Regions from separate parts of the Homo sapiens genome. Here regions 1, 2, 3, 5, 6 and 7 are each reported to be linked to region 4. Evidence: microRNA targets listed by miRTarBase, many of them from high-throughput screens and not tested one by one. Region 4 holds a microRNA gene; each other region holds the end of a gene's coding sequence. Distances are from middle to middle.

Evidence for each region. The annotated mature microRNA hsa-miR-6811-5p reads AUGCAGGCCUGUGUACAGCACU and lies in region 4 at 2,667-2,688, shown strand. An mRNA with a match to its seed (bases 2 to 7 or 8) in the 3' UTR can be bound and repressed. Matches are read on the target gene's strand: a 7mer-m8 pairs with bases 2 to 8, a 7mer-A1 pairs with bases 2 to 7 and ends in A, and an 8mer does both.
Region 1: the mRNA of SIX6 is a reported target of hsa-miR-6811-5p. Seed matches in the 3' UTR shown: 7mer-A1 at 364-370.
Region 2: the mRNA of SLC35F5 is a reported target of hsa-miR-6811-5p. The part of its 3' UTR that is shown has no 7-base or 8-base seed match.
Region 3: the mRNA of GATA2 is a reported target of hsa-miR-6811-5p. Seed matches in the 3' UTR shown: 7mer-m8 at 3,188-3,194.
Region 5: the mRNA of MEIS1 is a reported target of hsa-miR-6811-5p. Seed matches in the 3' UTR shown: 7mer-A1 at 3,274-3,280.
Region 6: the mRNA of ERG28 is a reported target of hsa-miR-6811-5p. Seed matches in the 3' UTR shown: 7mer-A1 at 783-789.
Region 7: the mRNA of SNX29 is a reported target of hsa-miR-6811-5p. Seed matches in the 3' UTR shown: 7mer-A1 at 3,657-3,663.

The regions. Positions count from the first base shown.
Region 1 is chr14:60,510,972-60,515,048 of GRCh38, forward strand. It overlaps SIX6 (SIX homeobox 6), which reads left to right. Exons shown (of 2, transcript NM_007374.3): 2 at 113-1,879. The coding sequence ends at 281. It also overlaps a transcript of C14orf39 not described here. Among named protein-coding and RNA genes, the nearest start is that of SIX6, 3.9 kb to the left of the region's middle. RefSeq lists enhancers at 43-814, 3,888-4,077.
Region 2 is chr2:113,714,100-113,718,176 of GRCh38, forward strand. SLC35F5 (solute carrier family 35 member F5) reads right to left here. Exons shown (of 16, transcript NM_025181.5): 15 at 3,654-3,751; 16 at 1-1,096. The coding sequence ends at 3,676. Among named protein-coding and RNA genes, the nearest start is that of MIR4782, 5.2 kb to the right of the region's middle.
Region 3 is chr3:128,477,361-128,481,360 of GRCh38, forward strand. GATA2 (GATA binding protein 2) reads right to left here. Exons shown (of 6, transcript NM_032638.5): 6 at 2,067-3,958. The coding sequence ends at 3,659. Among named protein-coding and RNA genes, the nearest start is that of GATA2-AS1, 9.8 kb to the right of the region's middle.
Region 4 is chr2:237,508,266-237,512,342 of GRCh38, forward strand. MIR6811 (microRNA 6811) reads left to right here and starts at 2,666; the gene lies at 2,666-2,723. MLPH (melanophilin) reads left to right here. Exons shown (of 16, transcript NM_024101.7): 3 at 2,309-2,530; 4 at 2,724-2,836. RefSeq lists enhancers at 2,136-2,636, 2,637-3,137.
Region 5 is chr2:66,568,623-66,572,699 of GRCh38, forward strand. MEIS1 (Meis homeobox 1) reads left to right here. Exons shown (of 13, transcript NM_002398.3): 11 at 45-134; 12 at 428-523; 13 at 2,624-4,077. The coding sequence ends at 486. Among named protein-coding and RNA genes, the nearest start is that of LINC01798, 3.4 kb to the right of the region's middle. RefSeq lists enhancers at 272-2,352, 2,331-4,077.
Region 6 is chr14:75,647,988-75,652,058 of GRCh38, reverse strand. It overlaps ERG28 (ergosterol biosynthesis 28 homolog), which reads left to right. Exons shown (of 5, transcript NM_007176.4): 4 at 170-288; 5 at 425-2,268. The coding sequence ends at 504. It overlaps FLVCR2 (FLVCR choline and putative heme transporter 2), which reads right to left. Exons shown (of 10, transcript NM_017791.3): 10 at 3,892-4,071. Among named protein-coding and RNA genes, the nearest start is that of ERG28, 11 kb to the left of the region's middle. RefSeq lists an enhancer at 3,419-3,713.
Region 7 is chr16:12,568,134-12,572,210 of GRCh38, forward strand. SNX29 (sorting nexin 29) reads left to right here. Exons shown (of 21, transcript NM_032167.5): 21 at 373-4,077. The coding sequence ends at 496. It overlaps SNX29-AS3 (SNX29 antisense RNA 3), which reads right to left. Exons shown (of 4, transcript XR_007064988.1): 2 at 27-166. Among named protein-coding and RNA genes, the nearest start is that of SNX29-AS3, 41 kb to the right of the region's middle.

The DNA of each region.
Region 1 (4,077 bases), not on the chromosome of region 4:
GTCTTCGGAAGAACCTCTAGCCGCCGGGCTGGAGGGACGCAGGAGGTGGTGGGGGCGGGCGACGGGCGGCTGTGTTACGAGCTGTGACCCGTGTTCCCTTTCTTCCCCGTAGACTCCAGCAGCAGGTCCTGTCACAGGGTTCCGGGCGGGCACTACGGGCGGAGGGCGACGGCACGCCAGAGGTGCTGGGCGTCGCCACCAGCCCGGCCGCCAGTCTATCCAGCAAGGCGGCCACTTCAGCCATCTCCATCACGTCCAGCGACAGCGAGTGCGACATCTGAGTTGCCCATCCAGGATGCTCAGAAGCAGATTCCAGTGTAAAAACGAGAAAAACAAAATGAAAGAGGGGAAGAAGATGAGAGACCTGCAAATCCAGCGCCACAGAAGCCAGGTGACCAGGGACCCGCGGGCTCGGGTTGCCGTTTCCCGCCCCACCCCGCGGCCGGCCTGGCTTCACTGGCGCCCTTTGGCCGCGACCACGGGAACCAGCGGTGAGGCCTGACCCAGCACCACGTTCTTCTTGCTTTGCTTTTTCCTAAGGATTTTGCTGCAAAGTCTCCTTCGGAACCCGAACTGCAAGCTGAGCGCCTGCCCAGATTCTCCCATGGGTATTTCACGTCGAAAGGACGCTGTTACATATGTATAACTTTCGCTTTAAAGTTTTTTTTTAACAAAACATATATATGCTGTTTATTTACTTATTTAAGAGACCGCCATGGTAGGTTTCTCTGTAGCTTGGGGAACTTGCTGTTTCTAAACATGCAGGCTGGTGGTGATGGGTTCTGTGTGGAGAAGCCAAACAATAAAACAACCTAGTGGGCAACCTTCTTAATTAAGGGAGCTGCTCTCAGATTCCTTTTCTTCTTATTATTATTAATATCATTCCCTTCACCAGGCATGCAGGGACCCTTGAGCAAATGGTCTCCGGAAGGTCTTACCTATATATCTTTTGCCTTCTTTGGTGCTTCCTGGTATATGTTTTAAACAACCTATGGTAGGTCTATAACCACCTCCCACGTCAAATTACACGTATGTGCATATATGTATGTACCTATACAAACATATGTATGTACCTATACAAACATATGTATGTATGCATACACGTGATATATTTAAGGCTAGAAATTGGCAACATGTGAGCGTCCTCTCTAAGGCAAGTCCCCGCATCCCCAGCACAGGTAATTATGGCTTGTCCACTTGACACTCGTTTACATGAAGTGTCAACAGCTTTCAGGAGCAATTTAGGAAGCCAAACTATGGGACTCAATAAGTGAGTCCTATTTTCTAAAAATGCAAAACTATCCTGACTCAGGCTCTGCAGCAAGAAAGGCTTTCTGTCTCCTTCAAGGCCCCCTCCAATACAAAAGCAGCAGGCACCCATGATCATGCTAGAGTGAGCATATACTGCATTTAGGATTGAGCTATTATTAAAATAAGACAAAAGATGATAGAAGAGGTTGTAAATAATTAGACTAACATCTTCTTGCTGCAGAATTTGGTTTTAATCAAATGAATGGTTTTTAACAAGAGGGATACTGAGATGGGGGAAAGGATGTAATCATGTCACATACTGAGGGTAAAACAAGGCTGTAGAAATAACTGGCATTTTAAAAACCTAATCTCCGAATTAAGCATAGAACAAGTCATCAAGGGCCTCATTGTCCTGGTAATGGCCTCGATTAAAACATAAAATATTTTTAGCATTTAATTTTTCCTCGTGCACATGCATGTATGCACCTATACATGAACAAATGCATGCATATACAACGCAAAAACATCTACCATCTTTGCACTAAGAAAATAAATGCTAGCCAGAGTCTCTAATTTTGTTCCTAGTGAAACAGATTGCATATTATAAAATTTGACATTGATCTTTAAATCACTTGAGCTGACTTCCCTCTTTACTGTCCCCATCCCCCAATTACAGCCTTTTCCATTTGCCTTTCTGTCCTTAGAAGATGTTCTTTGGATCAGAAGCCTGCTAACTTCTTTAGGCAGAAGTGCCAAAGTGCAAACCAAACAAAAATAAGTGAAGTCATGGAAGACAAAAAGCAGCCAAACGGCAAGATAGACAATGGAAGCCCAGGACAGAGTAAGGGTTGATTTTTGGTTTCTAAATCGCTTGAATAGATTTGGCTCATTTGGGCTTTATAAATGTTGTCCTTGTGTATGGTGGCCCTTATCCAGAGAATTCTTGAAAATCAAAACTCTCTTGCACAAGAGCTTTACATGGAAGGAGTGGGTAAGTTTTCGTGATAAAACTGGTGTTCTTTCCAAAAGCAAGCAAAAGCCCTCCTGTGGGTCCTGAAAGGCTCCCATTGTAGAGCTTCCTCAGTACTTAATTTTGTTTCCTAGAGCCCCAGGTAGTTCCTAGAATGCTAACGAGGGGCTGGCGAGGACTAGAGTGAGGCCAGGAGGGGACTCACGGTCAAGGTTATGCAAGTGCAGCAAGTGCAAGGCACATGAGATTGAGTGCCTCCTTAAATTTTGCACTCTAAGTGCCTCCTTTGCCTCATCCTAGTCCTTAATCTGACAAGGAGTAGCCACGGATATCCACTCTTGTTCCCCAGCCCCACCCCACCCTTAGCTATGGGGCTGTCCAGAACCAGTGTTTGGAGAAGTTTGTTGGCAAATTTTCTCTTAAGTTTATGCTTCCAAGTCCTAGAGGGATGGGAAATAACTAATTAGTGGAATAATGTAAAAGAATTTGAGATTCTAAAAATCCCACTCCACCCACCCCTTCAAATGATACCTAAAAGCAGAAGAAAATGTCCATTCCGCAGTGTCAAGAAAATAGGGTAACTAAGAAACTAAGCTTTCTCTTTACAAAATAATTTTTAAGTGACAGTTTATTGCTTGGACAAAAAGAGAAGACCAAACAGTGATGGAGCATTTTTAATTCCTGCTTTGACAAAAGCCTTTAAACTACAGCTACCATTTACTTAAATTAACAAGCTGCCTACATTTTAAAGTAGCTATTCTGTTTCAACAATCTGGATATTTATTTATTTAATTTCACTTTAGAATCTTAAGGGGGTGACACATTACTTGTAAGATTTTTTTAAATGTTTATCTGTAATGTGATGGCACCTAATTGCCTCTGTGAATAACCAATTCTTTGGTGACCACATATTGGAAATTAGTCCAGATCTTCACAGAGATTTATTTTATTTTAATCTTTCCAATCTTCCCAAGGACATTTAAAGGGTTTCTTTTTAAGACTTTTTCCATATCAGCTTCATTCTGGTCTTCAGGGTTTTGGGGGGAAAAAAAGTCCAGGTAATGGCAAGGCTGAAGGTTTCTGAATTTGGCAAAATCTCTATATAATGGGTTTCCTTCCTTTCTTTTCCTGCAATTCTTCTGTCACAATTTCCCAAAAAGCAGCTACTCCAGCAGAGTGGAAAGAGCATTTTTATATTAAATATTTCAACGGACCTGACCAATGTGAAGATTTTACCCCAAGCCCCAGGTCAGGCTCTTTTCCGGCTTATAAACATTTCAACCACACTCCAGTTTCACCAAAAAAAACGACGGCCCCTGCTCCCCAAATGCCGCAGTTCCTCTCGCCTCCACTTTAATGACCCACTCCACTTCCACCCGTCACTCCCTCCTTTCCCTTCGCCAGTTTGTTTATAAAAAATCTGGGAGGGAGGGGAGAAGACGATGGGGGTGGGGAGGGCTTGCTCTTTGTTTACATTAAACAAATGACAGGCAAAGAGCTCAAGCAAAGTCTTCCTTGACCTCGTTCCCTCTCCCTAATTTTAACAAAAAGGAAAAAAATATTGTATCCAAAGAGAATGTGAATGGGGCGGGAGGAGAGGAGAAGCAGCTTTTCGCTCTATTCAACGGGGACGCGAGAGCGCGGACGATTTCCGCTCCTTTTGTGAGGCGGAGCCCGGGGGCGGCCGTGAATGGGGGGTCTGTGGAGCGGCCGGCGGGGCTGTCAGGCGGCTCTGCGTAATCAGGGCTAATGACGGCGGCCGGGCGCTCGGCGGGACAATGCGCGGGGCCGCGGGGTTTTGTCGGCCTGAATGGCTAATAGGTTTGCCTGTGAGCTGCGAGGGGGCGGTGTCGGGG
Region 2 (4,077 bases), 120 Mb from region 4:
TGTAAGGCCTAAGTTTAAGAATTGCAATTAGGAGTATTTTACATTTAATTTATAATCTTAGTAGAGGAAAAGTTCTGATGTGATTTTAAAAACAGAATCCCTTCTCGCCTTACTTACTTGGTACTTTAACCATTACAAATTTATTCAGGAAAACTAAAATTATTTAAAGAAGAGACATCTAGTTCTAGAGTAATCTGGCACATTCATATGTGAAAAAAATTAGAAATCACTTGATACATCTACAATACACAAATAGACGTATAAACATTGTATTTTAATAATACTCTTTGTCACTTCAATTTAAATCATTCCATTATGAAAATTTCTTAATTGAAGGGAGACTATTTCTTCAAAACTCTAAATTAAACAGAGCTTTATCAATTAAGTTTACAGCAATATAGCCTTTAGAAATACATATTTCTTCATTTTATAATAATACTTCCCCTTTAAAAATTTGCCATGGTTTGTCACAGATTTAAAATACAAGGCACCTAATGCTATAAAAGAATAATACAGTAAATGTAGTGTAAGTGAACCAGATATTTTCTCAAATACTTATTCTTTTTAAAGTCCCATGAAATTTGCACAAACATGCTTGTTGCATAAATTAAACATTTTTTGTGTGGTTAATTTGCAATATTCTACAAAACCCAAAAATATAATCCACACTTATTACAGGTAGCTTATTTTAGCATTTTACCTGTCAGAAATACTGGTCTATGAACACTTAAGTGATTTCTTGAAAACATTTTCATAATATATTCCAGCATTTAACATGTGAAAATAAAGTCCCAGAACATTAGGATTTATTCCTTGATTAGTTCAAATGATTTCAACAGCTGAATTCCTTGAGATGTGTAAGGCAGGTTGGTCCTTTGGATGGACTGTAGACTGAAACTTCCTATAACTGTAGTGATATGTACACAGCTACATAGCAAAGTGCTTCATTATGAAAATGAAGAAAACAGGTATGAGAAAAATATATTTTAGAGTTTCAAAGAACTCAAACTGTTATTTTTCAGACTAGGCACTGAAACATTTTTTCTACAAAAACTTGCCAGAGATTGTCTCTTCGCTGTATAGTTCCATTATCAAGCTAAAAACAGAAACCACAGAAATGTGATTAGATTATAATTTCACAGTTTTAGTTTTCTATAGTTTACATTTTAAAAAGCAAATTATCTTAAAATTGAAATACCTATTTTCACTGTATACATACTTAATAACTGGATACTCAAATTTGGAGTACTAAGAACTTATGAATGTGACTTCTATAGCAATGTCAAAAGCTGACATCAACACTAAAGACTGTGTATTAGCAGTTAGTTGTACTCCTGGTATATTCCACCATTACTCCTGCAAAGACAAAGTCACCTGCCCAGTCTATTCTACTCTATTGCAATCCATCCTCCCTAGTCTTCACTCTCTCCTTTACACAGCTCTCACTTCTAAAAATACTGAAACCTTGCTGGATATGGGTAGGTTTAAGTGTGAGTACGAGAACAATGCACAGCATACCCAAGAAAAATAATGCATAAATTACAGCATTAAAAAGCTTTCAAGAATACAAAGTCCTCACTTAATGTCATAGGTTCTAGGAAACTGACTTTAGGTCCCCGAATAACATTTTTTCGTTCAGTGTTGTTATGTTATAATGTTGATGCAAAAAAAAAAAGTTTTGCTGTAATTTTGCTTAAAGTCACAGTTTATAAGAACCTACTGATGATGTTAAGTGAGGACTTACTGTAATTGTGTTTACGTTTTTTTAAATTTAAAGATGGCACATAAACATATATTTAGTTCCACTTGTTCTCCAAAACCTCACTAAAAAGGAAACAAAGGGTTAAAAAAATATATTTTTTAACAGAAATAAGGTCTCACTATGTTGCCCAGGCTAGTCTCAAACTCCTGAGCTCAAGTTATCCTCCCTCCTTGGCCTCCCAAAATGCTAGGATTACAGGCATGAGTCACTATGCCCAGCCTGGAATTTTTTTCTTAAAAGGAATAAACCACATGGACAAAAAGAAAAGTAGAGAGATGAGAAAATAACAGCCAACTCTTGGTTAGCAATGGAAAAACAGGACCAGATATCTCTGTAAGGAGGGGTGAAGAAACAACTAAAAACATGAAGACTGGTATAATGTCTATAGAAAAAGCAGACAGACACTCAGATGCCCTCTCTTACTTTTCACAGTTGGCCAAGTGCCTTTTCTCTACCCCAGGAGAAGACTTTAAGGTTTACTCTCCAAAAAGGGTAGTAACAGAGAATCTCTGGATAAGGGAAATACCAGGACGAATCCTACATAGCTCAGTCATAAGTAACAATTTTTTAGTGACAACAATATAAACACTGACTACAGATCTATCCAAAGTTATGCAACAACTACACAGGGATGATGAGGAGGCAGAACTGATATGGAGACAGGAGGCCTATGAGGTGGGAGCAGAGGAGGAGTCAACTTGAAAATAATCTGTCCTCGTTGATCTTAGTGGGAAAGTCAGCTGAAGATGCCTAAAACCGAGAACTCATGAAACACAAGTCATAAGCATGATACTTAGGGAGACAAGAAGGAAAATACCAAAAGAATCAGCTAAGAGTTTAATTTCCTCAGAGTGGGAAGAAAATGAAAGCAGGATGAGCAGGGCAGGGAAGGGCAGGGGTAACTGCCTTGTACAAAAAGTCTTGGAGAACTAGAGCTCAAACCATGTGCAGGTATAAACTAGATTTAAAAACAGCACACTAAAGAAAAACAGAAAACCAGGACCATTAGCTGTAGGTTAGAAGCAAGTTTACCAGGAGGATAATGAAACTTAACCTTCAAGCCTAATATAAGTGTTAACAACTGACAGGAGTTGTACAATGTTCTAGATAGGGAGGGAAAACTCAGTAGCAATCAAGAAACACTTCAATATAAATTGCCTAAAGATGTCTTAGAAAAACTAGAAAAATTCTAGTAGTTTTTTGTGATCTTTCATTCTAAATAATCACTTTTGTACCTGCAAAATCTGTACGTTACATTTAATTCAAGCTTTCATTCAGCAAAATATTAAATGTCATGTACTCTATCATCGAAGACATATAAAAGACACTATTTCTTAAAATGGAAAAAATGGAAAAAAATTCCAGAAGCATTGTTAAATGACAAAGCAATGTCAGAGAATGAGGATAAACACTGTGCCAGTTATGTAAAACAGACACATAAAGACTAGTATTTTCCAACCAGTATATTGTACACCAGAATATTACATTTTTCTTTTATCATCAGAGAAAAAATATTTTTCTAAAGCATATTATTAAATAAAATGACCCTTAGCATGAATAAAAATGAGTTAAAACTTTCTGATCATTTGAGTCAGGCACTATTATACATACTTTATATTTACCAAGTATTTACTATTTTAACACCCTCATAAGGGAGGTTCTACTGTAATCCCATTTCACAAATAAGAAAGCTGGAGCATCAAGAGATTAAGAACCTTGCACAGGGCCACACAGCTAGTATGTGGAGAAGACGGAACTGGAGTCCAGGCTTTAGCCCCTTTAGCCTCTAAGGCTGTATTGCCTCTCAAACAACTAATTATAGAAAATCAATCCTTTGAATATTACACAGATAAGAACCTTATTCAATACTAAACCCAGCTCACATACAAACCTGGGCTACAGACAACAGACAGCTAACTAGCTCCATCCTCCTGAGAAACACTGTGCATAGAAATGAGACTCTCACACTGTTCGCTGTCTTCTGGAACTCTTAAGAAAAAAAAAAGCAGTAATTAAGGAAAGCTTTAGAGCTGAAAAGGAACCTCAAACCTTATTTATTCCATTGCCTGAAGCTATGTGGACAGGATGCAAGTCAGTGGCAGAACCAACACTAGGATAAAATTTCCCAAGAACTTGTCCCAAGTTAGCGTTTTTTGTTTTTGTTTTTTAAATAAGAGATAGGGTCTCACTTTTTGTTTTTTAAATAAGAGATACGGTCTCACTTTTTGTTTTTTAAATAAGAGACAGGGTATCACTTTGTCACCCAGGCTAAAGTGTAGTGGTGCTATTATAGTTCACTGCAGCTTTGAATTCCT
Region 3 (4,000 bases), not on the chromosome of region 4:
GGCCTCCTGCTCTGGGGTTGTAGGGGGTGGAGGCCAGGGGGACCTAGGGCCACTATGCATCAGGTAGGAGGCACGTGCCTACCCTGCCAAGCCCCAGGCTGGCTCCTTTCTGTACTCAGTGTCAACTTCACAGGGAAGGACAAGAGGGGGTACCAGTGGCACACCAGGGCAGAGTCTGGAGGTCAGAGTCTATCCTGATGGGCTGGGGCAGCTGGGACAAGGTGCTGAACTTCCTGGTACTTTGGCCCACCCAGCTCTAAGCGAGAGACCTCCCAGTGTCAGCAGCCTGGTATTGGGAAGAGTTAAAGGAAAATCTCCTGGACCAGGTGGACATCAGGGCTGTCAAGGAACAAGGATGGTGGCAATCAGAAATACCCAGTCCTCAGGGCCCCTGGTGAATAAAGATCCTGGTGGTCAAAGATGATGACAACTAAGGTGAAGAGAAGCCATGGCTGACCAGGGACATACAATCAGAGTGATTTTTAATTAGGGACGGTGAAGTCAGCCAGAGATGATGTCCATCAGACACAACCTGGTCAGGGAGGGGTGTGTTACATGCTGGCCATCAGGAGCCAGTGTTCAGGGGTCTTGGCAACCAGAATTATCATTGAACAAATATGTCATCAATCATTGATCAGGGGGCATGGGTGGCTTCGGCTGTGAATGACCGGGAGCATTAGTGGGGAAAGTATTGGGTGTCCATGTCCTTGGTGGCCAAAGGTATACGAGATATTAGTGACCAGATTCAATGACTGGAGACATGGGGTCCAGAGATCTTGGTGAAGAGAACCAAATGCAGACCATCAGGGATCAAGGGCACTAGTGAGCAGAGACATCAATGATTAGAGAATTTGGTGATCAGAGACATTGGTGACTGGGTATTCTGATGACCAGGGATATCAATGACCAGGGAGGTCAGTGATCAGAGGTATAAGGGACTTTGGAAAACGGGAACATTGGTCAGCAGAGACTTTGAAGACGATTCAGCAATCACTGATGTTGGGCATCAGAGACATTGGTGATAAGAGATCTTGATGATCAGTGTTGAGCAATCAGGGGTATTGAGAACCAGAAACACCAGTGACTACATTGATAGGAAATATGATGGGGAGAGGATCCTATGATCAGGGACATTGGTCATCAGGCACATTGCTAGTTAGAAGTAATGGTGATCAGAAACAACTGACCAAGGACATTGTTAAAGAAACACTGGTGATAAGAAACAGTGTGATCAGAGATGCTGGAGATTACATGTGAGTGATTGGTCTATCACCAGAAAAAACACTTATCAATTACATTGGTGGTCATACTTATTGATGCCCTAGAACATTAGTGACAAAGCGCATTGGCGATCAACACATTGGTGAGAAGAGATACTATGATCAGGCATACTACTGGTGAGCAAAGATGGTCACTAGAGACATTCGTGATCACATTTTGTGGGTGTCAGTGATCAAACTCATGGTTAAGCAGAGGCATGGATGAAATATTGGTGATCAGTTGTTAGTCATCAGGTGTCTCTGATGGCAGGCTCTCATGATCAGACATGTCATTGATCTGGAATATCAGTCATGGTGCCTATCATTGATGACCAACATCACTGATCAAAGATGACAGCAATCAATGACATCAGTGATCACAGACACTGCTGGTCAAGTTTGCCAATGAACAGGAATATTGATGACCAAATATCTCAGAAACCAGAGCTGAGAGAAAGTTCAGCACCTGGAAGGAAGCAAATGGAGATGGGGTTTGCAGGAGCCTCGTTGAGCCCTCAGGGGTGGACCACAGGCTGGAGAAACCACGGCCTCCCTGCACCTCCCCAGTATCTTCCCATTCACTAGGACCCCTGGTGCAGTGACAGGAAATCCAGATGGGAGCAGTTCAGGGGAGGAGCCTCGGGACGTCAGTGGCAAAATCAGACCCAGGCCCAACAGAGGCCCCATCCTGGATTCCAGGGGCTTTCCCCTCGCAGCCACCCCGGCGACAAAAGCAATGCAATCTGGCTGCCCAAATTCACACCCGGGACCCAGCACCCTGGGAGCCCACAAGACAGGCCAGGGGCATTCACAAAAAGTATTTTATTATTCTTAACAGTACTCACTTTAAAGGAATAAGAGGATAGCATACATTTTTTACAGACAATATATAAATGTTGTACATAATTAACAATAACTTAGTTCACTAATCCAAAATAAAACAAGCCAAATAAAACATAAAAACAGAAAATACTGCCGATTCTTTTTCTTATGCGGACACTAGTACAAAATAAGTTACTTCTGGCCGTGGTGCTCCCTGCAGCGACTGCCCGCCCATATTGCACTTGGTCACTACATCAGCACAATCCTCCTCCTGGGCCAGGGGCCCCTCACAGGCCACCACACCCCGCCGTCACCGCATACAGAATCTAAGCTCGGGACACGTTTATATACAGCTGTACCTTGGGAAGGATCCAGACAGCCACAGTAAAGCTGGACCTGAGACCCCAGCAGGGACACAGCCTCTCCCTGGGTCCTGGTCCTGACCTGCCCCCAACTCCTGCCTTCACCCCCTGCCAGGCCAGCAAATGCCAACCAGCCCCCAGAAACCAAGGGCAGCAAAGGCCCCTCCCCACCCCCAGCTTTCATACTAGGGCTGTGGGATCCCAGCTCTTTTCCAAAAAGAATTGCAAAGCTCCAACCTTGTGTGTAGGTTTTATTCCTTTCATAGCAGGGCTCCTGTGGCTACGTACAATCAACTGGACCCAAAAAGAGTTTAAAAATAAAACAATTAACTCATCAGCGAGTTAAGCCTATGCATTTTTTTAATATTTTTTCTTTTGTCTCAGAGTAGGAGGCGAGGGGGTTGAAGGGTTAGCAGAAAAAGGATGTATTTACAGGGTCCACCTGACAAGACAGGCTGTGGCTTGCGCTCAGTAAGGGGACACAGTCACAGCAGCTTCGGCCTCAAAGCCAAGGGAGCGATCTGGGAGACGTTTCCCCTTTCAAGAAAATGTTGTTTCCTTCCTGTGACCCAGCCCTGGCCTGGGAATCTGTGCAGGACCGCCCGTGATTGTCTCTGCCCTCCAGGGCCTGGCCCGTCAAAGCAGGCACCAGCTCACCCTCCCTGGGCCGTGGCCACTCTGGCTTTGGCTCAGCCCAGCCTGGAGTTCGGCTATTTCAGAGAGGGAAGCCAGAGGAGAAGAGGGTGCAGGCTGAGGTCCCCACAAATCTGCCCCCAGAGCCCTGGCAAGTGGACCCGCCAATCCCGAGGAAGAACCGGAGGACTTGGGACAGCTCAGACCACCAAGTCTCCAAGTCCTTGTTAGAAACAAGAGCAAAATAAATTATTTTTGCCTAATCCTTTTTCCTTCTAAAAATGGTTGCCTTCGTCTGTCCCGTCCCCTCCTTTTCTCTACATAAAGTTGTCCTTGTTGTTCTCCAAACAACTGTCCATGCAGGAAACCCCACCTGGGCAGCGGTCAGGTGCGGAGGCAGCCTCTCAGCGGTGGGGAACATTCACAGTAACTGCTGGCAGGCTGCTGGGCGCCCTCCAGGAGAGGGGGTGCTGGGCCGAGCCGGGCTGGCAGGAGTGGTGTCGGCCTTCGGGAAATGCTGGGCTGCTAAGGGTTTGGTCCACCCATCCCGGGAGTGCCCGGTCCTCGACGTCCATCTGTTCCCTAGCCCATGGCGGTCACCATGCTGGACGGGTGGGGGTGGCCGAAGGAGAGGCTGGAGGAGGGGTGGATGGGCGTCGGAGTGGGCAGGATGTGTCCGGAGTGGCTGAAGGGCGGGAGGTGGCCCACAGGTGCCATGTGTCCAGCCAGGGCAGCTGCACTGAAGGGGGATGACTTCTCCTGCATGCACTTTGACAGCTCCTCGAAGCACTCCGCCCCTTTCTTGCTCTTCTTGGACTTGTTGGACATCTTCCGGTTCCGAGTCTGGATCCCTTCCTTCTTCATGGTCAGTGGCCTGTTAACCTAGAGGCAACCACCAGTTTTCAGAGGGCCAGTTCCTTCCTC
Region 4 (4,077 bases):
TGTGCCTGGCTAATTTTTGTATTTTTAGTAGAGACGGGGTTTCACCATGTTGGCCAGGCTGGTCTTGAACTCCTTACCTCAGGTGATCCACCTTCCTCAGCCTCCCAAAGTGATGGGATTACAGGTGTGAGCCACTGCACCCAGCTCATTTCTTTTTCAATGAAGGATCTAATGACTGTCAGAGCAGTTGGGCCCACTGCCCTGACTCGTGCTAAAGCCTCAGCAGTTTATCCACCATTGTTTTTACACCTTCAGTGCAGGCATCAAAGAGCAAAGAAAAGGCAAATGATGTCTCAGCATTATTACAAAAATAGCTTTGGCCTTGTGACTCACCCCCCTAAAGGATCTTAGGAACCTCCAGAAGAGAGGTCCCTGGACCACACTTTGAAGACCACTCTTCGAAATCATTGGATCTAATATTCCACGGTAGAAATTGTGCCCATTTCCCCCTCCATTGTGAGCTGTGATTTCTCGCCATCTCTGTCTTAACCAGTTCTTCTCCACCTCCACCAGCATAGCCGGTGGTGCTCCCATCTCAGCCTGGTTTCCTCCTGTGTCTCCTCTGTCCCTCTCATTGAGACTGCACGTACTTGCTTATGCCCCATTCAGCACACCAAGCTGACTTGTTTCGAGTCTGTTTCTGATGGTAAGTCACATTCAGGAGGGTCTTTTATTCCTGAAGCTAACTTTAAATTGGAGCCACGTGCCGGGCTCTTGCCTGTTGAGGAGTGACTTCTGGTCAACCCAATTAGCAGAGTGCATGGAGTGCTCTGGCCCCATTCACTCCTCAGGATCGGAAGCTCCGGGTCTTGTTGATACGTCCTGGAGTGGCTGGCAGATGTCATTTGGTCTCCCCAAATGGAGTCTTCTCTGCCCTCCCTTCCTGGTCTCTGGCTATGAAGAAGGGAAGTTATGTTTTAAAGAATCTAAAGCACAGTACAGTTCTCCTTTCCCCTAATTTCAGCCTCTGAAATATATCAGCCTCCAGCTGCTGCCCCAGGACACTTCTGGGCTCTTATTTAAGAGGACTCCTCCAGCCTGGAATGCAGGGCAGTACACATGTCCTTGTCTTTCTTCCTGCTGTGCTGGCCCTCAGGGTACCGTTCTGCCTGGATACAGAAGAAGAGGTTCTCCCTGGGACAGAGGCTAACAAGCCCTGTCCAGCGAAGGGGTGGCCTCCAGGTTTTCTGGTTGGTGCAGAGCTGGCAAGGGTGGAAATGGAGGGAGTGAGGCCCTTCCCATCTGGCTCCAGGGACTTGTGCTCCTCTGTTTGGGACAAAGACTTTACCTTGTCAATGCAGCTTTATCTAAACTGTAGTCTGTGGATGGCGGTATCCCCCTAGATTCCTACAACTGCTTGACCCTTTTTCTCTTGGTTTTTGAAGCTATGACAAGAGCCTGATTTCGTGTCCATCTCAGTGAACATTTTTGTAAATAGTGGAGAGAGGAAAATCGTGAAGTTCAGCCAATTGCACTTGAAACCGGAGGTGGCCTCCCCCTGCCTGGTGGGACTCCTCCACTCTCTTCACCTTTGCTGCACTCTGGGTGTCCGCCTCCAAATCAGTGTGCTTCAGAGTTCTCAGAAGACAATGGCACCTAGTGTCCTTCTTGTTTTTGTCACTAAGAATGGATTAATTTTATCTCATCTGAAACTGAAAATATTACGTTTGGCAGACATTCTCTGAAATCTAGAACAAAAGAAATGTGTTCATTATCATCTAAGGATACACTTTCCAATCAGTTCAACTTGGCAGGTTCACCAGGAAGCTGTGTTATTTAAACTCGGATGGTCTAGGAGAACTGTAGACTTCCGGGTGCTAGATGATTCCTGCTCTGGAAACTCACCGAGCCATTTCAGCTGCGCTCTAGAGGAGCAAACCTGGGGCGTTAGCTCAACTCTTGCCCCCCTGCTGAAGGAGACCAAAACAATGCTTGATCAGGAAACACCATCTGGCTTTGCCCCCAGGATTCTGTGACTGCCCTGGGGAGGGCGCAGTGACCTGCCAACCAAAATTGGTACAATTGTAAACAGCCACAGAAATGCTTAAATGCAATATCATTTCTATGAAATTAACGTGTTTCCATTCCATTCCAGCCACCAAAATTGCCCGTTTGAGCTCAGCCCTCAAAACAAAGATGCCTGTGTGGCTTTGCCCAACGTTGGGTCACTGTTTTCTGCATAGGAGACAGTTACTGTGTGTGTGTATGTGTCTGTGTCTGTGTGTGTGTGTATGTACGTGTACACACTTAAAGCCTGTTGCAAAAACAAGATGCCCAATATATTTCTTGTTTCTGATATTTTCCCAAGGGCGTTGAAGGGCAAGATTAAGAAGGAAAGCTCCAAGAGGGAGCTGCTTTCCGACACTGCCCATCTGAACGAGACCCACTGCGCCCGCTGCCTGCAGCCCTACCAGCTGCTTGTGAATAGCAAAAGGCAGTGCCTGGAATGTGGCCTCTTCACCTGCAAAAGCTGTGGCCGCGTCCACCCGGAGGAGCAGGGCTGGATCTGTGACCCCTGCCATCTGGCCAGGTGAGCCCAGGCCTTGAGGTAAAATGACCTTGATAGTTTCTGGATCTGGCGTGTCCCTTCCATGGGGCTAGCTGAAGAAGGGTGGACGCACACATGCACACACTCGTGTGTGTGTGTGTGTGTGTGTGTGAGATTTATGCAGGCCTGTGTACAGCACTCAGGCAGTGCCATGAGCCTGTGCTTGTCCCTGCAGAGTCGTGAAGATCGGCTCACTGGAGTGGTACTATGAGCATGTGAAAGCCCGCTTCAAGAGGTTCGGAAGTGCCAAGGTCATCCGGTCCCTCCACGGGCGGCTGCAGGGTGGAGGTAAGGAGTGGAGAGTAAGAACGGCTTTTTGTTCCCAGGCATTTTAGGAATATTAAAGCAGGTTCCTTTGGAGTGTGCATGTGTGTGTGTACGTGTGTGTGTGCATGTGTGTGTGCACATGTGTGTGCATGCACATGCCTCTCTGTGAATTCCTGCTTCTGGCTGCTTTTTTTTTTTTTTTTTAATTTTTGTAGAGACAGGCATCTCACCATGTTTCCCAGACTGGCCTCGAACTCCTGGGCTCAAGCAATCCACCCACCTCAGCCTCCCGAAGTGCTGGGGTTATAAGTGTGAGCCACTGTGCCCTGTGAAATTGGCTCCTTTTTATGTGAGGTGCAAACCTCTGCATCCCACTGGCCTGGTCTGAGCACCTCAGAAGTCCTGGGTGCTGCTGAAGTTGCCAATATTTGAAATTATATTGTTTTCAAATCTTCAAAGTAAGTTGAGAACTCAAAGCCAAGTTTCTGAAACCCAGCTGCTGATTGAATCACCAGGGTGCTTGTTAATACTACATGTTTTCCAAGCCCTTCTTCCCTGGGACATCTGGTTTGGGGCCTAGGCTCTCTCTTTTCAACAAACATTTCACATGAATCTGGTGATTATCAAGATTTAGAGAAATCTGTTGTAATTCAGTTGTTTTCATCTTTTGAATCCAAGTATTTATTTCATGATGAATTTGAAATCCAGGCAGTAGGCTTAAACTAAACAATGTGTTCGCCTGTAAGATCCCCCATAAGGCATTTGGAAGAGATCTTTTCAGGGAGAGGGTGGGAGGATGCCGGGGGGTCTTTTGCATTTGAGTTTGAAGGGAGCTAACCCATCAGTGTTTTTGAGAAAGCTCACCTTGTCCCTGTTACCTGGAGTCCAAGGCTTCTGCCACTAAGCCCGGCCAAGCATTCGGGTGGGACAGCCGCCACCAAGCCAGGTGTCTGGGGTCTCAGTGTCCTGGATGACTCCATCTGCAAGACCAAGGCGAGTTTCTCCAGGGCCACGAGGCAGCGCCTGGCTCCGGCAGCTGGGCACGTCCAGGGCAGAGGCTGTGCTTCTGGATTGGGGCGTCCTCACCATGCCCCAGCCCAGGCGTCTCCCCCAGGCCTTCCTTCTGGAGAGACACCTTATTCGTGCCTGTCTCTTAAAGCCTCAAGTTTGATTGAAGAAGCAGAAGTTGGCATAGACACCTTTGAGCATTCAAGCTCTCGCCGGGCCTGCTGCAGGCATTTCAAGGCATCTTAGCCCATCGT
Region 5 (4,077 bases), 170 Mb from region 4:
TCTCAGAGACTGTTATTAAAAAACCACATTCTGTACTTTTGTAGTAAGTCAAGGAACACCTTATAATCCTGATGGACAGCCCATGGGAGGTTTCGTAATGGACGGTCAGCAACATATGGGAATTAGAGCACCAGGTAAGACTTTGTTTTTGTGGTAGTTCCTCATTTTTGACTCCAAGAGTGTCATCCCCTCATCAACACAGGTAAATCCGCCTCATCCTTTTCTGTTATCTCAAGCTGGCTGCCTTGCCTTGTCTGCTATCTGTGCATCTAAGATATTGCAGAGGGGAAGCCAGGATCTTTATGCACTGAAGATCTCACTATTTCTCAACCCTCTAGATCCTGTTTTTTTTTTAAGGGTCTTTTGGCACTATCTGTTGACTTTGCTCATTTTCTGGCCTCTTCTTGGATTTTTATCTCCCTTCTAGGACCTATGAGTGGAATGGGCATGAATATGGGCATGGAGGGGCAGTGGCACTACATGTAACCTTCATCTAGTTAACCAATCGCAAAGCAAGGGGGAAGTAAGTACAAATGGGGTCTTTGTTTTCACTTTGTCCTAGGAATATTTTTCCTCTTGCATTTTCTTATGTTCTCCTTGCCCATAGCTTCATGCTTGTTCATTCCTTTCCATTAAACTCCTGGTTTCTTGCTTCCATCATTTTCTTTTTGGTTGTGATCAAGCTTTTAAGCTTATAAATACTGTGTATGATGTACATTTATCCTGTGTGTTGCTATTGTACAGTACTGACCACATGACAAAACAAGAAGCAGTCAGGAGGTGGGGGAGTGGGTTGTCATAGCAACAGACTGATTTGCAAAATGTAAGCAGTCTGCAGCAGTGCAAGGAGAGGGAAGAGCATGTCCCCAAAGTGTCATAAATCTGTCTAACCGCAGTTGATGCATGAGTTACATTTCTACACTAACCTGCAAGACACCGAAAAGCTAAACAGAGACTTCTTTTAGGTAAAATAAACACAAGCTTTACTTAGGGTAAGTAAAGGCATATTTTGAGCTCCAGTCAACTAAACTTTGATTTTTTTTCTTAGTTTATTCCTTTGTCTGTCCATCATAATGGGATTACGTGTGGCAATGGGAAAAGGGAGAATACAAAATAGAGGTGTGCACAGCAGGCTGCGGGGCTTAGCCCAGGCTAATTGACTATATCCAAATTAAGTATGCCATCACTTGCAGTGTGACAAATGGATTTGACTTATTCAGTATACAAAAATAGAGATCATTAATGCAATCATCAGTGGCAGGCCTAGTGAAGTGGGCCTAGGAAAACTGTCCCAGATTCTCACTCTTGCATTTTCTCTCCTATAAAGACACTCCAGCAATTCGAGTTCAAACAAGTAAAACTGTTTTGAACACCAAGGCTCTTGTTCACTTCCTAAATTACCCCTAATAGCACTGTTCTTGCTTTGTTTTTGAAATTAAAAGCAGTTATTTCAGAGTCTTGCTTGTGTCTCTGATTATATTTATGCACTATTTAAAATCACTGCTGAGGCCAGGGGTAATTCGTACTGGTCATCTTCTCTGGGTGTGAGTCAAATATAAGTTTAACAATTAGCTCTGAAAACATTCCATTGAGCTGGGGAATGCAACAGTCTTATTACCTCATCATGGAATTCTCTAGCTTAGTTAATTTAAATATTGTTTCTTAGTTTCTGGGTCAATTAAATTTAAATGATGTATTTTATGCTTCGTGACCAATTAAATTACTAGGTTATTACAAAAAAAATTATCATCTTTTTTGATTAAAGAGCTGTGGGTACAGTATATTTTATAAGCAATTTTCATTAGTTCAAAAATGTTCCTTTAGGCTAGATTAAGCAGCCATTCATTGTTAGAGCCTGGAGACCTTATTCGAAGGTGTTCATCGTATTCACAGTGCACTATTACTTAGAACTAAAGCCAATTGAACCTACTTAGCAATAGCGTTATGCCTTTCACCCTTGATGATTATGGAGCTTATAGCTCTCAGAAACAATACACCTGTCAGTTTCCATCAACTATAGCAATCCATGCAGAAGACAAGAGGCCCCCTCAAAGCAGGAGGGGTATTGTTTTAGGTCCAATTTTTCTTATTGTTCTCAAAATCATTATAAGGTGGACAGTGTTTTGTGAAGATTTTCTTTTCCCCAGCTCTAAGAAACCATGTGGAAAGAATTCATTGATAACTGTTTTGATTTTTTTCTTTTTTTAAGTACAGGTTTTGCTAAGTAATCACCCTTAGTGAGCCTGTGTAGTTCAGCTGCCTGTGAGATGTTTGGTGACCAGCTCAGTGTATTCTTGTATTCTTGATAGAGAATATTTCAGGAGACAAAAGTGCTTCTTCAGACCAGACCTCAAATAACAATTTTATTCTTTTTAATAAATAAGACCTCAGTAGGCGGACCTGATAACAGTGACAATGAAAGGAAAATAGTGGCAAAATGTGAGTTTCCAGCATGATGTTTCTCATTTTATTTTCTTCTGTATGAATCAAAAGAATGCTTTACAAAACCATGTTCCCTTAATCACAGGGTTCTCTGGCTTTTATAGGATTGTCATAGCCAGGACCACACTATTGCTTTTTCATAACATTTTCTTTTTGTTTCTTTCTTTTGAATTTCTTACAGGGCTGCAAAGTATGCCAGGGGAGTATGTAGCCCGGGGTGGTCCAATGGGTGTGAGTATGGGACAGCCAAGTTATACCCAACCCCAGATGCCCCCCCATCCTGCTCAGCTGCGTCATGGGCCCCCCATGCATACGTACATTCCTGGACACCCTCACCACCCAACAGTGATGATGCATGGAGGACCGCCCCACCCTGGAATGCCAATGTCAGCATCAAGCCCCACAGTTCTTAATACAGGAGACCCAACAATGAGTGGACAAGTCATGGACATTCATGCTCAGTAGCTTAAGGGAATATGCATTGTCTGCAATGGTGACTGATTTCAAATCATGTTTTTTCTGCAATGACTGTGGAGTTCCATTCTTGGCATCTACTCTGGACCAAGGAGCATCCCTAATTCTTCATAGGGACCTTTAAAAAGCAGGAAATACCAACTGAAGTCAATTTGGGGGACATGCTAAATAACTATATAAGACATTAAGAGAACAAAGAGTGAAATATTGTAAATGCTATTATACTGTTATCCATATTACGTTGTTTCTTATAGATTTTTTAAAAAAAATGTGAAATTTTTCCACACTATGTGTGTTGTTTCCATAGCTCTTCACTTCCTCCAGAAGCCTCCTTACATTAAAAAGCCTTACAGTTATCCTGCAAGGGACAGGAAGGTCTGATTTGCAGGATTTTTAGAGCATTAAAATAACTATCAGGCAGAAGAATCTTTCTTCTCGCCTAGGATTTCAGCCATGCGCGCGCTCTCTCTCTTTCTCTCTCTTTTCCTCTCTCTCCCTCTTTCTAGCCTGGGGCTTGAATTTGCATGTCTAATTCATTTACTCACCATATTTGAATTGGCCTGAACAGATGTAAATCGGGAAGGATGGGAAAAACTGCAGTCATCAACAATGATTAATCAGCTGTTGCAGGCAGTGTCTTAAGGAGACTGGTAGGAGGAGGCATGGAAACCAAAAGGCCGTGTGTTTAGAAGCCTAATTGTCACATCAAGCATCATTGTCCCCATGCAACAACCACCACCTTATACATCACTTCCTGTTTTAAGCAGCTCTAAAACATAGACTGAAGATTTATTTTTAATATGTTGACTTTATTTCTGAGCAAAGCATCGGTCATGTGTGTATTTTTTCATAGTCCCACCTTGGAGCATTTATGTAGACATTGTAAATAAATTTTGTGCAAAAAGGACTGGAAAAATGAACTGTATTATTGCAATTTTTTTTTGTAAAAGTAGCAGTTTGGTATGAGTTGGCATGCATACAAGATTTACTAAGTGGGATAAGCTAATTATACTTTTTGTTGTGGATAAACAAATGCTTGTTGATAGCCTTTTTCTATCAAGAAACCAAGGAGCTAATTATTAATAACAATCATTGCACACTGAGTCTTAGCGTTTCTGATGGAAACAGTTTGGATTGTATAATAACGCCAAGCCCAGTTGT
Region 6 (4,071 bases), not on the chromosome of region 4:
GAGAATATCGTTGTGATCAAATAACCAGCTCTTCCTCAGGAACAAGTGTCCTTTCTTTTAAGTCTTAATGACATCCTGGGTTCTTATTTGTCTGTATGAAGTCTGATACTTTTCCTCTGTTCTGAACAAACAGTAACTTTGGTTCCCATTTCTGTCTGCTTCCTTATAGGCTCTATCACATCACACTCTGGACCTTCCTCCTTGCCCTGGGGCATTTCCTCTCTGAGTTGTTTGTCTATGGAACTGCAGCTCCCACGATTGGCGTCCTGGCACCCCTGATGGTGGCAAGTAAGCATCCAACCACCCTAGACCTCCTACAGGAGCTGTGCCAGCTCTAGAGCTAGTACAGAGGGTGGACACAGGAGAGAGAGAGAAGAAAGGTACCGTATGTATGTTAGTCACTAGTCTTTCCTCTGTATTTAAGGTTTCTCCATCCTGGGTATGCTGGTCGGGCTCCGGTATCTAGAAGTAGAACCAGTATCCAGACAGAAGAAGAGAAACTGAGGCCAGCATTATCACCTCCAGGACTTTCTCGTTTTCCACCTTGGCCATCTTCTTCCTTCGTCGTCTCTCCTCTTTAATTTCTTTTCTATTCCATCATCTGCCCTTTTATTCACTTTTAGCCTCTTTTTTTAATTTTTAAAATTTAAAGATATGCATACTGAAAAGTATATAACATGTACGTACAATTTAAAGAATAATTTTAAAGTGAATACTACGTAACTCCATCCAAGTCAAGAAATTGCCAGCTTCTCGGAAGCCCACTGTGTCTCCTTCCCCTACCTGCAACCTCTTCCAGGCTCCCTTTTCCAGCCTTCCCCTTTTTCCCTTTTATTTTCATGCCTTGATTTGACTTGTGTGGTGGGAACATGTGAACTATGAAACTTAAACCTGCTGCCCACCCAGAGCAGCTGTGACCAAGGGCTGCCTCAAGGGGTTGTCCACGCAGGTTGGGCTCCTCTCTGCTGCTGGACCCAAGACTCTGAACCTTCCAAGGGACAGGCAGTTCTTCTAAGAAGGGCTCCCCTGTGTGTGAGCAAGACCACAGCTCTCCTTCTATCTACAGATGCATGAGGGTTGGAAGAGTCTGGGCTGTTTTTAGACCTTCTGGTCAGCTGTATTTGTGTAACAACTTTTGTAATAAATAGAAAAACCCTCTGCTCTGATCAGTTCTTGTACTTTGACCTCTGCTAAGACAAGAGCATGGCTGCCTCCTCTGAGCCCTAGGAGAATCACAGCTTTATGCCTGATTGAATACACCATAGTGAGTAGGACAGCTCATGACACAGGTCAGCCTGGCTGCCTCCGGCTCCTTACTGTCATTTGCTCATTCCTCTTGTATTCTTGAAGTCAAATCTTCTTTTTTCTCACCTTCAAGAGTCTGCGTTCACAACTAAACACTAAGTGCCCTTTCTTATTTCCTCCTAAAGAAGAAACAGATTCTTGAGAGAGCAGAGACAAAAAAATAGAACTAGGCAGCATAGATGAAACAACTGCATGACATGGGAAGAAGACAACTAAACCCCGAGGAGAATGCACTGGAATGGACAGTTGCTCTTAAACCCTACCCAGAGGGCCTCCCCCAGCTGGACCCTCATACACAGTGTGTGTATCCAAAAGGCCATTGCTATTTCAGCAAATATTTGTTGAGTACTTCTCCATGCCGGACACTTGGGAAAGAGAAATGAACGACACAGGCAATGCCCCTGCCCTGTGGGCCTTATATTATAGTCAAGGTAACAGAATCAACAAGCCAACACAAAAATAAAGAACTTCAAATAGGGATAAGAACTCTAACAAACACAAGGTATTTTGGTCAAGAAGGAATGTGGGGTGGGCAGTGGGGAACGTAACTTAAATTAGATCATCAGAAAGTCCTCCCTGAGGAGATGGGATTTTTTTGTTTTTTAGAGACAGGGTTTCACTCTGTCACCCAGGCTGGAGTGCAGTGGCACAATCACACCTCACTGCAGCCTCAACTTCCTGGGCTCAAGTGATCCTCCTGCATCAGCTTCCCAAGTAGCTGGGACTACAAGTGTGTACCACCACATCCAGCTAACATTTTTGGGGGTGGGAAGAGATGGGGTCTTACTATGTTGTCCAGGCTAAGAGGTGGGATTTGAGCTGAGACTTGAATGCCCAGGAGTTAAATGTCTTAAGATATGGAGCAGGCCGTTAGAAAGGAGGGAGCAGCAACTGGAAGGTAGAATAGTCTTATTCAAGGAATAAGAACTATGTAATCACAGCATGGTGAAGAGTTAGGAAGTGAAAGAAAAGGTCAGAAAAGGAGGCAAGGGGCTTATAAGGGTGTGATAAGAAGCTTGATGTTTACACTTAAATACATTGGGAATTCTCTTATCAGTTAAGTCTCTTTAGGTGAAAGGACAAAACCTACCTTAAACTAGCTTAAACAATAAAGATAGCTGGCTCATATAACTGAAAAATTACAAGATTAGCTTCAGGAAGGGTTTGATCAAGACTCCAGCTCCATTTCTTTACGATTCTTTCAGCACTACCTATGTGTGCTGGCATCCTCAGGCTGACTTCTTTTATGGTACCAAAGTTGGTTGCAGAAATTCCAGGCCTCATATGCCCAGAACACTGTATCTAGAAAAATATCTCAATGGTAAGAACTATCTTTTCTTTACTTGTCAGCTATATTGTTAGGAGGCAGTAAAAAAGCAGTGATGACAGTTAATGTTTGAACACAGATCCACATGAAGACCTTATGAAAGGAGTGAATGAAAACATTGGATGATTTAGGTCCTCTGAGCATGTGTCATGAAAATGTGATGCCCTGGCCGGGTGTGGTGGCTCACGCCTGTAATCCCAGCACTTTTGGGAGGCTGACACGGGCAGATCATGAGGTCAAAAGATCGAGACCATCCTGGCCAACATGGTGAAACCCCGTCTCTACTAAAAGTACAAAAATTAGCTGGGCATGGTGGCGTGTGCCTGTAGTCCCAGCTACTTGGGAGGCTGAGACAGGAGAATTGCTTGAACCAGGAAGGCGGAGGTTGCAGTGAGCCGAGATTGCGCCATTGCACTCCAGCCTGGCGACAGAAAAAGACACCATCTCAAAAAAAAAAAAAAAAAAAAAAGTGATTCCAGATTAGTAAAGGCAGGGACCCAAAGGATCTAAAGAGATGTACAGTTAGAGTATTTAGCAGACACTATGGATATTAGATTTCTTAACAGCCCAGGCTTGGGTCCCTTCCTAGATCATTTAAAATAGAATCATAATATTGTTCCTCCCCAGCTACGAGTTGCTATAAATATGATGCTAGAATACCACAGGCACAGTACAACTCTCTATGGAAAGAATGTACAGAACACAGATGATAGTAGCAGCATATTCAAGTAACACGCACAAGGTGATCACAACTGGGGAGGGATGAGTAACAGGACGTTGGCCAGTTAGGAAGAAAAATGGTAACGCAAGACTGCAGCTGCTGGGACTGAGCCATGGGCCCCAGCCACAGCAAGCTGATGCATGGCTGAGGTAATCAGAGAACAAACATTTCAACCACCCTTTGAGGCAGAGCCAGAAACAACAGTGGACTCTCTCATCAGCAGTCACTCACATTCCAGCGCGTACACAGCATGGAAAGAGGTCAGGGTCGTGCTGGATGTTGAGTTGCAGTCCCTCCATGTAGGCAAACAGTAACCTTTACAGCCTTGTCTTTAAAAAATATCCCTCCCAGATGGTAAGGTCTGGCAACAGTGAGATGCTCCTGTGGAAGACCACAGTTGCTGCTTCTCTAGCCTCACACTCCCCCGCCCCAGCCCAGCCCTTCCCCACACCTAAGACAGGAGCCTCAGGAATGTGTGACAGTCTTGCAGGGACTTCTAAGAGCCATCTCTGCCCCACTGAATGATAAGGCAGACCACTTTCTGAGAAGTTTTTATTGCCTCGAAATGTCAGATCTTACAAATAGAAAACACAAATTATGTTTTTAAAATAAAGCAATAGGTTTGGTAAACATTTTGTTAATACCTTTTGAAGGGTTTATGAGTAAACATCTTTCTCTTTATCAAAAAGTAAAGCACACCCTCACCTCTCTTCCACAC
Region 7 (4,077 bases), not on the chromosome of region 4:
AAGTTGCCTTGGACTTAGAAGCGTACCTTTGCTGGAAAATCAAGGAAAATGTGGGGAAGAAAGCTGTGCCTAGAACATTCTTTCATAGCCTTAAAATGTAGACCGGAACGGTGGTACCATGAGCTAGCTCAGACTCACAGCCAAGCTTGGTTGGAGCCTCGGAGTGCTGTTAAAAAAAAAAAAATGGAAAGGTTTACGTGACAATAGGGGTTTCTCATTTCTTCAGGTGGCACCAGTTAGAGGCAGATCCAATGAGCCAGTCACAGTTGCCAATCAGATCCCTCCTGCCCTCACACCTGGCTCCCCTTCCTGGCCTGTGGTCATTTGCTTTTCATCCCCAGACTTAACCCGATTCTCTCCCTGCTCTTTCAGCGACATCACCCCGCCCGGAGAGCCTGTGAACAGCCGGCCCAAAGCAGCTTCCCGCTTCCCCAAACTGTCCCGGGGTCAGCCCCGGGAGACCCGCAACGTGGAGCCCCAGAGCGGTGACCTCTGACCTCGACAAAACCGCAGCCACGGGCCCTGTGCGTGGCACCAGCTGCGTCCACCCCAGCCACTGCCGCTGGCCCCTCACCTCAGCGTGACAACCACGTCCACCTGGTGATCCTGAGAGCACACGATTCCCAACAGTTACACAACACCCCGATTAAACTAATCAGTCTTCGAGCCGCATGATACCGTGACCCGAGAGACCAAGGCAGCACCTCGCTGGAGAGACTGGGACACACAGTCCTTCTGCTTCTGGGGTCTACCCTGGGCTGCAAGGGCTGTTCCTCCACCTTTCTGTAGTTCAGGGCTGGCAGGAGGGTGGGCACCAGGTCAGGCTGGGTGCGCCATGGTTGAGAGGCAAAGGTGATCCCCTATATAGGAAGGTTCATGCAGAGCCAGCCTCTCCACTCTTTCCCACGTGGGGACTAGAATGACTATTAGCCTCTCCTTTTGCTTTTTAAGGTTATTACCTGGCCTAACCTAGGGATGGCTGGCTTTGCGGGGGGGGGGGGGGGGGGGGGCATGGTTCCTTTCACTGCATTTTCCACCAACAGTCATTAGACACCTGGCACTGTCACAGCTCACTTTTCCAGAGGGATATTCCTGTGGCTTTGGCAAGGAGCCATTAGTGATGTGCAACTTGAGTTCAGAGAACTTCCCCTACCTCCCCCATGGCTGGCTTCAGGAAGGACCAGTGCCCTCCATAGCCTGAGGCCACCTAGGCCCTCGCCAGGCTTGGAGTGGGGGGACTCAGACATCTGGCCCAGCCATCAGCAGCAACCTAGTAACCCGGCGTCATCCAGCGTGTCCAAAGTAGCATTGGCCCTACAGTCATGAGAGACTTGGGTCAGGGAACCACTGCAGAAGGTTCCAGGGTTTTCAAACCAGGCTCCATGACTATGAAGTTGGACCCAGTGTGGACACTTAACAGATCATGTGTCTCTCCACTAAAAACATTTTCCATCCCGTCTGCCCCCGACATTGTCCTTGATAACAGAACTCTGCATCCCCTAAGACAGAGTCCTCTGTTCCTCCCATGTCAGGTGGCTCTCAGAGTACAGGGACCTTGGCAGGTGGAGAGGAGGATGGGGACCAGCAGCTGGGCAGCCCCCAGGGCTCCTCCTCCAGTGAGCTCACATCAGAGCACCTCACAGAGCAATAGCCGTCCTCAGATGCTCAGCAAAGTTGTGGCAGTTTGCATTTCTAGGGTAAACTAACTAGGAAGGATGTCGTGAAATGGACTATGCAAGAGTAAGTTTGTGTGTTTCGCCTTAATCTGAGGCAGAGACACAGCAGAACCTGAGGAGAAAAGCAGGTGGAAGGTGACGGTTAGATGGTAAGCCATGGGCTTGTCCTGGAACTGCTTCAACTCAGTGGCTTAAAATGAGAACTGCCCAGGTGAGCATGGAGCATCTCCTAGGCTCGAGGACATCTCTGGAGAATCATCTGGAAGGTTTATACTGTGCCTTCCCCTCGTAGCAAAAAGGAAGATTGTTCATGGCCTTTAAGGAAGGCTGAGATCACTCACACACAGCGCCCCCCCACCCCAGAGAAACCGAGTCAGCCTACATGACTTCCAAGGGGACCTGGGGCCAGATAAGCCCTGCCCCGGTGAGACCAAATGAGCTGGAGCATGTATGGAGGTGCGGACCCTGCAGTCAGTTTGCGAGTGTGGAGGACCCGAGACATCCTGTAAAGGCAACTTGGTCTCCCTCCCACTCACCTGCCAACATTGCTGCAATACACATGGTTTATCTGAAATTCCAAGGCCAGAGTGCACATCAGCTCACATGACTGGCAACTCTAAATAGAGAGCCCTAATGGACTGAGGCAGGAAACGTCTAAAAGCTCAATCTGCTGTATGTCATGACCCCTTAGGTTGGGTTTATGCCACATCGGTCATTTTGAAGTAGGTGTTTGATGCCAGCTCAGAGACTGTCTCAGGAGTGCCTCCCTGGCCTGGGTAGCTACCCTGGAGGTCATCTCCCTGTTCTCTGTTGGATAAAGGAACCTCCCCCATCTGTGACATTCCCTTGGGCCCAGGCTTATGACCTGCACCTTTTCTGACACCTGCCCCCAAAGCACAGGATGTGAATTGGTCTCTCTCCAGATACCCCACGAGGAAGCACCTTGGACATTCTGCACATGATAATAATGCAACAGTCCCCCATTGCTGAGAGATACTAACCCGTGAGAAACAAGTATGCTCTCAGCTGGTATTGAACTGGTGGGAGAAACTGCCTCCTACTTTTATAATACTGAATTATTCACAAAAAACCTGGTCTGCTCTCCAAAATGAGAGCATGTTCCTGGGAGCCACATGGGGACCATCCCCAGCTGCCTGCTCCTGGTACCTCCCCCATGATCATGCACAGACCGTAGAGTCGAGTCATCTCGCAGATCCAGACCATCTCCTCTCATTCTCACTCTAAAAATGCTGGTGGCCCGCACATGACAGCAACTCCCCGAAGCCTTCCCTTTGGAATCCCATAGAATGTTCTGCAATGATTGGGTCCATCTTGCTGCTCAGAAGAATCCCGTCCTGCTCTCTAGTGTGGTGGGATGAACTTCAGGCAACAAACAACTGGCAGGGTTCCCAGTTCCTGGAGTTATGGAGCAGAAACACCCAGGCCTAGCAGAATTGTGGCTGAAACCTGGTGCCCAAATTCCACACCCTGGAAATGTGTCAACTGCCTGTCAGCCTGGATTCAATTCTGAGGGCTAAGCCACGACCTTATCCATGAGTGGCGAAGACACCCCTGAGGAAAGGATTGCTTGCACCTCACATCTGTCTTCTTCTAAGATTACTCGGAGATTTTCAAACAACATCTGAGAACAGAAGCCCCCTCCCCTACTCAGAGAGGAACGAGGGTGGCCCACCTCTCAAGGGCCTTGGATTCCTGGGACCACCCTTTGCTGGGAGGAAGAATCCACACCGAATCCTTCTGTCTTCATGGCCTGCTGTGCTGAAACAGAACAGCAGGTTCCATCTTTCACATCTTTTTTTCTCCCCCAGATGAAAGACGACTCAGGAACGGTAGGGCTGGGCAGAGGTGTCTCTCCTTGAGAGACAACAAAAGCTTCTAAGGGAGGGAGCTTAAAGGCTGCTAGAAACCTAGCCCAACCATCCACTCCTGATCTGAGACAGAACCTTCTCCGCCACTCTTCCTGCAATCAGTGTGAAATTCCAGCTTCTTTGATTCCCACTTAGCAGTATGCTCCAATCACGTTGCTGGCAAGGCATTTTAGAGTTTGGAGCTGAGGTTCAAAGCCCCCTGCATTTCTCTACTGGCAGGCCCTGGTGAAGGAAGACACTTTCAGGGAAGAGGCTCTTACAGTCTATGGTGGTAGCCATCTTCACATCCAGTCACCAGTTGCATCTAGGGAGCTGCTGGCTATAAAAGGGATCATCCAGTGGAGTTGTAAACAAGGGAACCATCTTGCAAGATCTAGGAAGAGGAAGGGGAGGGATGTGGACTGGGTCTGATCACAGCCCTTGGCCCTGCTTCATACTTTGGAGCTTATTAAGATCAATTTTGATAACCATGTAATTTCTTAGAACCATGGCAGGTAGTATTGTGCTTTAAA